Linked DNA regions of Homo sapiens. The protein of the gene in region 1 purifies or fractionates together with the protein of each later gene. This does not show direct contact. Each region holds a gene or a part of one and is shown on either strand. Other genes may lie near its edges.

The links. Proteins that work in one complex are often made in the same cells at the same time.
Region 2: the proteins of CSPP1 (region 1) and HOMER1 purify together in Homo sapiens (affinity purification with mass spectrometry; 2 studies listed by BioGRID and IntAct, with this or other methods). This does not show direct contact.

What each region holds. Positions count from the first base shown.
Region 1 is NC_000008.11:67,158,392-67,161,891, forward strand, and holds part of CSPP1 (centrosome and spindle pole-associated protein 1), read left to right. Parts: intron 1-55; coding exon 56-205; intron 206-599; coding exon 600-746; intron 747-3,419; coding exon 3,420-3,500. UniProt on the Homo sapiens protein: May play a role in cell-cycle-dependent microtubule organization.
Region 2 is NC_000005.10:79,392,135-79,395,634, reverse strand, and holds part of HOMER1 (homer protein homolog 1), read left to right. Parts: intron 1-3,500. UniProt on the Homo sapiens protein: Postsynaptic density scaffolding protein. Binds and cross-links cytoplasmic regions of GRM1, GRM5, ITPR1, DNM3, RYR1, RYR2, SHANK1 and SHANK3.

The DNA.
Region 1 (3,500 bases):
ATATTCTAACTTTTCAATAGTTTTACAAGATAAATAACTAAGTTTAATTCTTTAGATTGAGGAAAAGAAACAAAGAGAGGAAGCAGAGCGAGAGAGACTGAGAATTGCAGAAGAAAAAGAAGAAAGACGGCTTGCAGAACAGAGGGCACGAATTCAGCAGGAGTATGAAGAGGAACAGGAAAAGAAAAGAGAGAAAGAGGAGGAGGTACATCTTTTTTCCCTATTGTATTTTACTACTTAGTCTGAAGGTGAAATCTTTGACTTGAAAAGGTATTTCTTACTTATAAAGGAGAACAGTGTTGGAGTACATTTAGAAAATATCAGATCAATATACATTCTTTGGATATTATTTTATTAAGGTGAAAGGGTAATTTAAGAAAGGAGATAAGTGATGACTTTAAAAATATAGATGTAGGCTGACTGAAGACTTTATAAAAGATGCCTAATATTTTATTTTTAAGCAGACAACTTATGTTAAAGAACACCATATCATGTCATCTATATCTTTATCTCATTTTATCAGATAAATAAGGCAGCACATTTTTGAATGTACTATAGAAGGAATATATGGAATGCATATTTCTCTTTTTATTTTAAAGCAAAGGCTAAAAAATGAAGAGCATATTCGGTTAGCTGAAGAAAGACAAAAAGAAGCAGAAAGAAAGAAGAAAGAAGAAGAAGAAAAATATAACCTGCAACTTCAGCACTACTGTGAAAGAGACAATTTGATTGGGGAAGAAACAAAGGTAAGTTTCAGACAAAAATGTCAATCAAACCCATAGTTTAACTCACTTTCACTGTGAGAGTTGTACAGTTGTTAGAAAAGGGGAGAAAGAGGAGGAGGTGCTTTTGTTCCTGTTCTGTCTTACTGTTTAGTCTGGGCACAATGTACTGAACTTTCTGTAGGAGGTACTGTCACTGTGCTTTGTTGGTATTTTCTGTCCATTGAAGGTAATGGATTTACTTACTTGAGCCATTCTTAGTCTCATTCCCATGGTGTATGCGGTGCCACCCAAGAATATGGTCTGCAGACAGTACAACATGAACTGTTTGTTATGGTTCATGACAAGACTAATACAGAAAGTGAGAGTGGTTTATATATATATATATATGTATTCTTTTTTTTTTTTTTTTTTTTTTTTTTTTTGAGACATAATCTCGCTCTGTTGCCCAGGCTCTGGAGTGCAGTGGCACAATTTTGGCTCACTGCACCTCCACTTCCTGGGTTCAAGCAGTTCTCCTGCCTCAGCCTCTCAAGTAGCTGGGACTACAGGCACACGCCATCATGCCCAGCTAATTTTTGTATTTTTAGCAGAGACGGGGTTTCACCATGTTGGCCAGACTGGTCTCAAACTCCTGACCTCAGATGATCCACCCACCTCTGCCTCCCAGAGTGCTGAGATTACAGGAGTGAGCCACCACGCCCGGCCTTCTCTCTCTTTCTTTCTTTCTTTCTTTCTTTTTCTTTCTTTCTTTCTTTCTTTCTTTCTTTCTTTCTTTCTTTCTTTCTTTCTTTCTTTCTTTCTTTCTTTCCTTTCCTTCCTTCCTTCCTTCCTTCCTTCCTTCTTTCTTTTCTTTTCTTTTCTTTTCTTTTCTTTTCTTTTCTTTTCTTTTCTTTTCTTTTCTTTTCTTTTCTTTTCTTTTTCTTTTTCTTTTTCTTTCTTTTTGTTTTAAGAGACCAGGTCTTGCTATGTTGCCCAGGCTGATCTCAAATTTTTGGGCTCAAGTTATCCTCCTGCCTCAGCCTCCCAAAGTGGTGGGATTGCAGGTGTGAGCCACCACACCCTGCCTCACAGATAATTTTTTATTGTAAAATTCATCATTTAAGAATTTAAGGTCGAGGCAGGCGGATCACTTGAGGCCAGGAGATCGAGACCAGCCTGGGCAACATGGTGAAACCCCGTCTCTATAACAAATACAAAAATTAGCTGGGCGTGGTGGCAGGCACCTGTAGTCCCAGCTACTCAGGAGGCTGAGGCAAGAGAATCGCCTGAACTTGGGAGGCGGAGGTTGCAGTGAGCCGTGACTGCACTGTGGCACTCCAGCCTGGGTGACAGAGCGAGACTCCATCTCAAAAAAAAAAAAAAAAGAATTAAACAGAATTGTTAGTTTCCCATAATTATATTTCTTGTAATTTCTTATGTTTTTTAAAAATGCTATTTTTTAAGGAATATATACTTTTATGATATTATAATTTAATTGTAAAGTACCATAAAGTTTTAAATCAGCTTTATCCCATTTAATGCATTTGCCTTTCTGAAATTAACATTGCTATCATTTTCTTTCATTTATGTATGTCTGATATATATATATATTTTTGTCTATTCCTTCAGTTTTACCTTTGTGTCACCATATTTTTTATTTAGTTAGCTTCTATCTTTAGTTTGTTGAATTTTTAAAATCCTAATCTGAGTTATAATCTTTTTATTTTTATTTATTTATTTATTTATTTAGAAATAGAGACTCGCTTTGTTGCCCAGGCTGGAGTGCAGTGGTGCAATCTCGGCTCACTGCAACTTCCGCCTCCCAGGTTCAAGTGATTCTCCTGCCCTAGCCTCCCCAGTAGCTGGAATTACAGGTGCAAACTACCACACCTGGCTAATTTTTATTAGAGACGGGGTTTCACCATGTTGGCCAGGCTGGTCTTGAACTCCTGTCCTCAGGTGACCTGCCTGCTTGGCCTCCCAAAGTGCTGGGATTATAGACATGAGCCACTGCACCTGGCCTAATCTTTTAAAATAGGGATATCTAAATCCATTTATGTTTATCAAAACTAATGTCTTTGCATTAATTGCATTTCTGACTTTTTTGTGTTTTTCTTCCTTGATAGCTTTTTGGTCTTTTGTTATGTGTACTATGGCTTGTTTGCTCCATCCTCTACAGGGATTTAGAATGTCTATGTTGTATTTACAATGAAGTTTTTGGACTATAAGGTTTAATACACTATAAACTGAAATATAGAACCCCATCGTGATCTTGAAAAGTCCCTCATCCATGATGCTGTTAGTGATTAGATCTAGATTTTCGAGGTTGATTTGTATTGCTTTCCAGAAGGATTTTGTTATTTAATTTTTTTGTATTGTCATGGTACCTTTTTATTATTAAAGATGATTCTTTAGTTTTGTTATATTTTTTCTTTTTTGTTGCTTTACTTGTGTTTGTTGATTTTTTAAATCCTAATCTGACAGTCATACTGTTTTAATAAAGATGTCTAAATCCATTTATGTTTATCATAACCAACATGTTTGATCTTATGTAATTGAATTTCTGACTTTTGTAGAAAGCATTTTATTAAATAAAAGCAATAACAATCTAAACTTCTTAGATGACTTTCTTAACTATAAGGGGTGTGTGTGTGTGTATATATGTGTGTGAGTGTGATGAAGCAAATATGCTCTTAAATTTTTTAAATTTTTCAGCACATGAGACAGCCTTCTCCTATAGTTCCTGCTCTTCAGAACAAAATTGCAAGCAAACTCCAAAGACCTCCTTCAGTTGAC
Region 2 (3,500 bases), on another chromosome or scaffold:
GATTCCTTATATAAAATGGAATATTTACCTCTCCCCTTCCCATCACTGGCTTTCAGTAGTCTGGGAAAAATGAGATCACTTGTTTTGGTTGGCCCTATTAAATGCCGTTTGTATATTTTAGTCGTCTATATAGATTAGTGGTCATCAACTTGGGGCACTTTTGAAGCCCAGGGGACATTTAGCAATGTGTGCAAACATTTTTTATTTTCACAATTAGTGGAGCGCCACTGATATCTAGTAGACAAAGCCAGAGATGCTGCTAAGAATCAGATTATCCAACCCAAAATGTCAATAATGCCAAGGTTGAGAAATCCTGATGTAGAACTTAAATATGAAGCATGGAATCAGGGCTGGAAGAAAGGGGGAAATTCAGTCAAGTTTTGTCTTTCGTTTGTTTTGGGTTTCGGGTACTTGCGATGATTCAAGCATATGTTAAGCACTTAACTTACATTAGCTCTAATTCTCACAGTAGCAGGTGAGGTATCCCCATTTTCAAAGAGAAGACAGCAGTTCAAAGGTGTTAACAAGTTTAATTAAGGCACTTAGCTAGAAAGTAATGAGGCCTAGATTTATTTTATTCCAAAGTCCGTTCTTTCTGCATTACCACACTTCTTCAAGCAACAAACAGTCAAGTCATCCTTAATGATTCTTTTAAAAAGTATTTTCAGTTATATACACATTTACATTGTCTCACTTATGAAGAGAAACAAAGAGATGATATATTTATATCAAATTTCTAATGTTGATAATTCTAAATGTATTTGAAGCCAGGCATAGTTGCTTATGCCTATAATCCCAGTGCTTTGGGAGGTTGAGGCAGGAAGATCTCTTGAGGCCAGGAGTTCAAGGCCAACCTGGGCAACATAGCGAAATGCTGCATCTACAAAAAAATGAAACAGTAGAATTAGCTGGGAGTGGTGGTGTGCACCTGTAGTCCCAGCTGCTTGGATCACTTGAGCCTCGCTTGAGTTGGGAGTTGCAGTGAGCTATGATCACACCACTGCACTCCAGCCTGGGTGACAGAATGAGACCCTTTCTCAATAAATGTATGAATGAATGGATTTCATCATTGATAGAGCAGTAATTGAATTTTATAGCTGGCACTTGAAATTGTGAATATAATTCTTACCCATCCTTTCACTGAATATCAAAAATATTATCAAAACAACCTACCTAGAACAGGACAGGGAAGCTTTTAGAAAACCTGAGGATGAATTCTAAAAGAACAAGCTACAGAAAATAACATATTTTTTCCAATTCAAAGAAATTTCCTCCTCTGCAGCCTTCTCCCTCCCACAGAAACATCTCCTGTTTATCAAAGGTCCCAGCACCCTTGAACTCCATTCATAAGTTCAGTACAGAAAATTGGGATCATTAAATTCCTTGGAAAAGAATCCTGAAATTGCAGTATTTAGAGTTGGATTAGTATTTAGAGTTGAATGTGGATAGAAAATGTATAGTTATTGGTAAATTAAGGATACCGTGCTACAGTTTTTCTAATTTATGAGTTTTTGATATTTGGCAATATTTGGATATTTCTGTTATAAATGTCTATGAAAAACATGCCCATTGTAAAAAAAATTAGAAAAATTTCAAAAAATGTACTTAGCAAGGTTAGTATAAAATCATAATTCCATAATATTAAAAAAATCATAATCCTGTCATCTTAAGGCAAGGTAACTGGCATTTCCTTGTCCCAGTGTTGGTTTAGATAATATTTTCTTTATAAGAGATGGATATAGATACCATTTTTTGTTTGTATACATTTTTATCTAACTTTATGTCATAAGCCCAATGGCTGCATAGAATTCTCCCATATAGAGGTATCATAGTTTTCTTCCAGCATTCCTATAGTAATGGCAGTTTATGTTGTTTCCAGTGTTATGCTATAAATAAATAATATTACAACCTTTTTCATAAATCTTTGCCTTTCTGATTATTTCTTTAAGATAAACTTTCAAACAAGAATTGCTTGGTGTCAATGTTTTAAAATTTCTTATGCTGGGAAATTGACATCTGGAAAAGCAGGGTACCCACTGGATATTGGTACCCCCTGGACCCGTTCTTTGCCATCTCTTAAGAAATGAAGTGACTCAACTATTTAGTTAATTTTTAAATTATGAATAACATTGAACAATTTTTCACATGCATTTAGTCTTTACCTGTATCTTGAAGTCACGAGTGCATTTTCACCTTAGAGCATGTGGAATATCTTTGCCTGGAATTCTTTGCCCAAATCTTCAGATGGCTGGCTTCTATTTTTAGTTTAGGTCTTAGTTCAGATGTTAATTTCTCTGACTTCCCAATTTAAGGACTATGCTACAGTCCCCACACCCCATCCCAGGTATTTTTTGTAGTATTACCATTTTTTATTTTCCTTTTAGTACTTATCACTAGCTGAAATGATCTTGTTTTTTATTTCTATTTTGTTTTTAAGCTATTTATTTTTATTTCAATAGGTTTTTGGGAACAGGCAGTGTTTGGTTACATAAATAAGTTCTTTAGTTAAACTTTTTATTTTGAAATAATTTCAGTCTTACAGAAAAGTTGCAAGAATAATACAGAAATTTTTTATATACCCTTTACTTACATTCCCCAAATGTCATTTTGGCTATATTTGCTTTGTTTTATTCTGGATGGCTCTCTTCTCTCTCTCTCTCTCTCTCTCTCTCTCTCTCTCCCTTTCCCTTCTTTTCCCTCCCTCCCTCGTAAGACAGTGGTAAGTATTCATGTATTTGTATCTAAGCACATCTAAACACAGAAAAGGTAGAGTAAAAATACAGTAGAAACGATAGAAAAGGTACAGTAAAAATACAGTAGAAAAGGTAAAAATTGTACACTTGAATAGGACACTTATCATGAATGGAACTGTAGGACTGGAAGTTGCTCTGGGTGGGTCAGTGAGTGAGTGGTGAGTGAATTTGAAGACCTAAGATATTACCATACACTGCTGTAGACTTTATCAACACTGCACTTAGACTACACTACATTTATTTTTTAAAATGTTATTTCTTCAATAATAAATTAGCCTTAGCTTACTGTAACATTTTAACTTCATAAACATTTAAAATTTTTTTAACTTTTTACTTTTTTGTAATAGCTGCAAACATAAACATGTATTCAGCTGTAGAAAACTATTTTCTTTATATCCTTAGTCTGTAACCTTTCTTCCTATTAAAAAATGTTTTTAAAACTTTTTAAACTTCTTTTAAAAAACGAAGACACAAACACACATATTAGCTGATGCCTACACAAGGTTGGGATCATCAATATCACTGTTTTCTACCTCCACATCTTGTCCCACTAGAAGGTCTTCAAGGGCAATAACAGGCATGGAGCTGTCATCTCCTATGATAACAATGCCTTCTTCTGGAATACCCCCTGAAGGACCTGCCTGGGGCTGTCAGATAATTAATGTTTTTTTAAATAAGTAGAAGGAGTACACTCTAAAATAACTTGAATAGTAATAAATAGTATAGTATAATAAATATATAAACCAG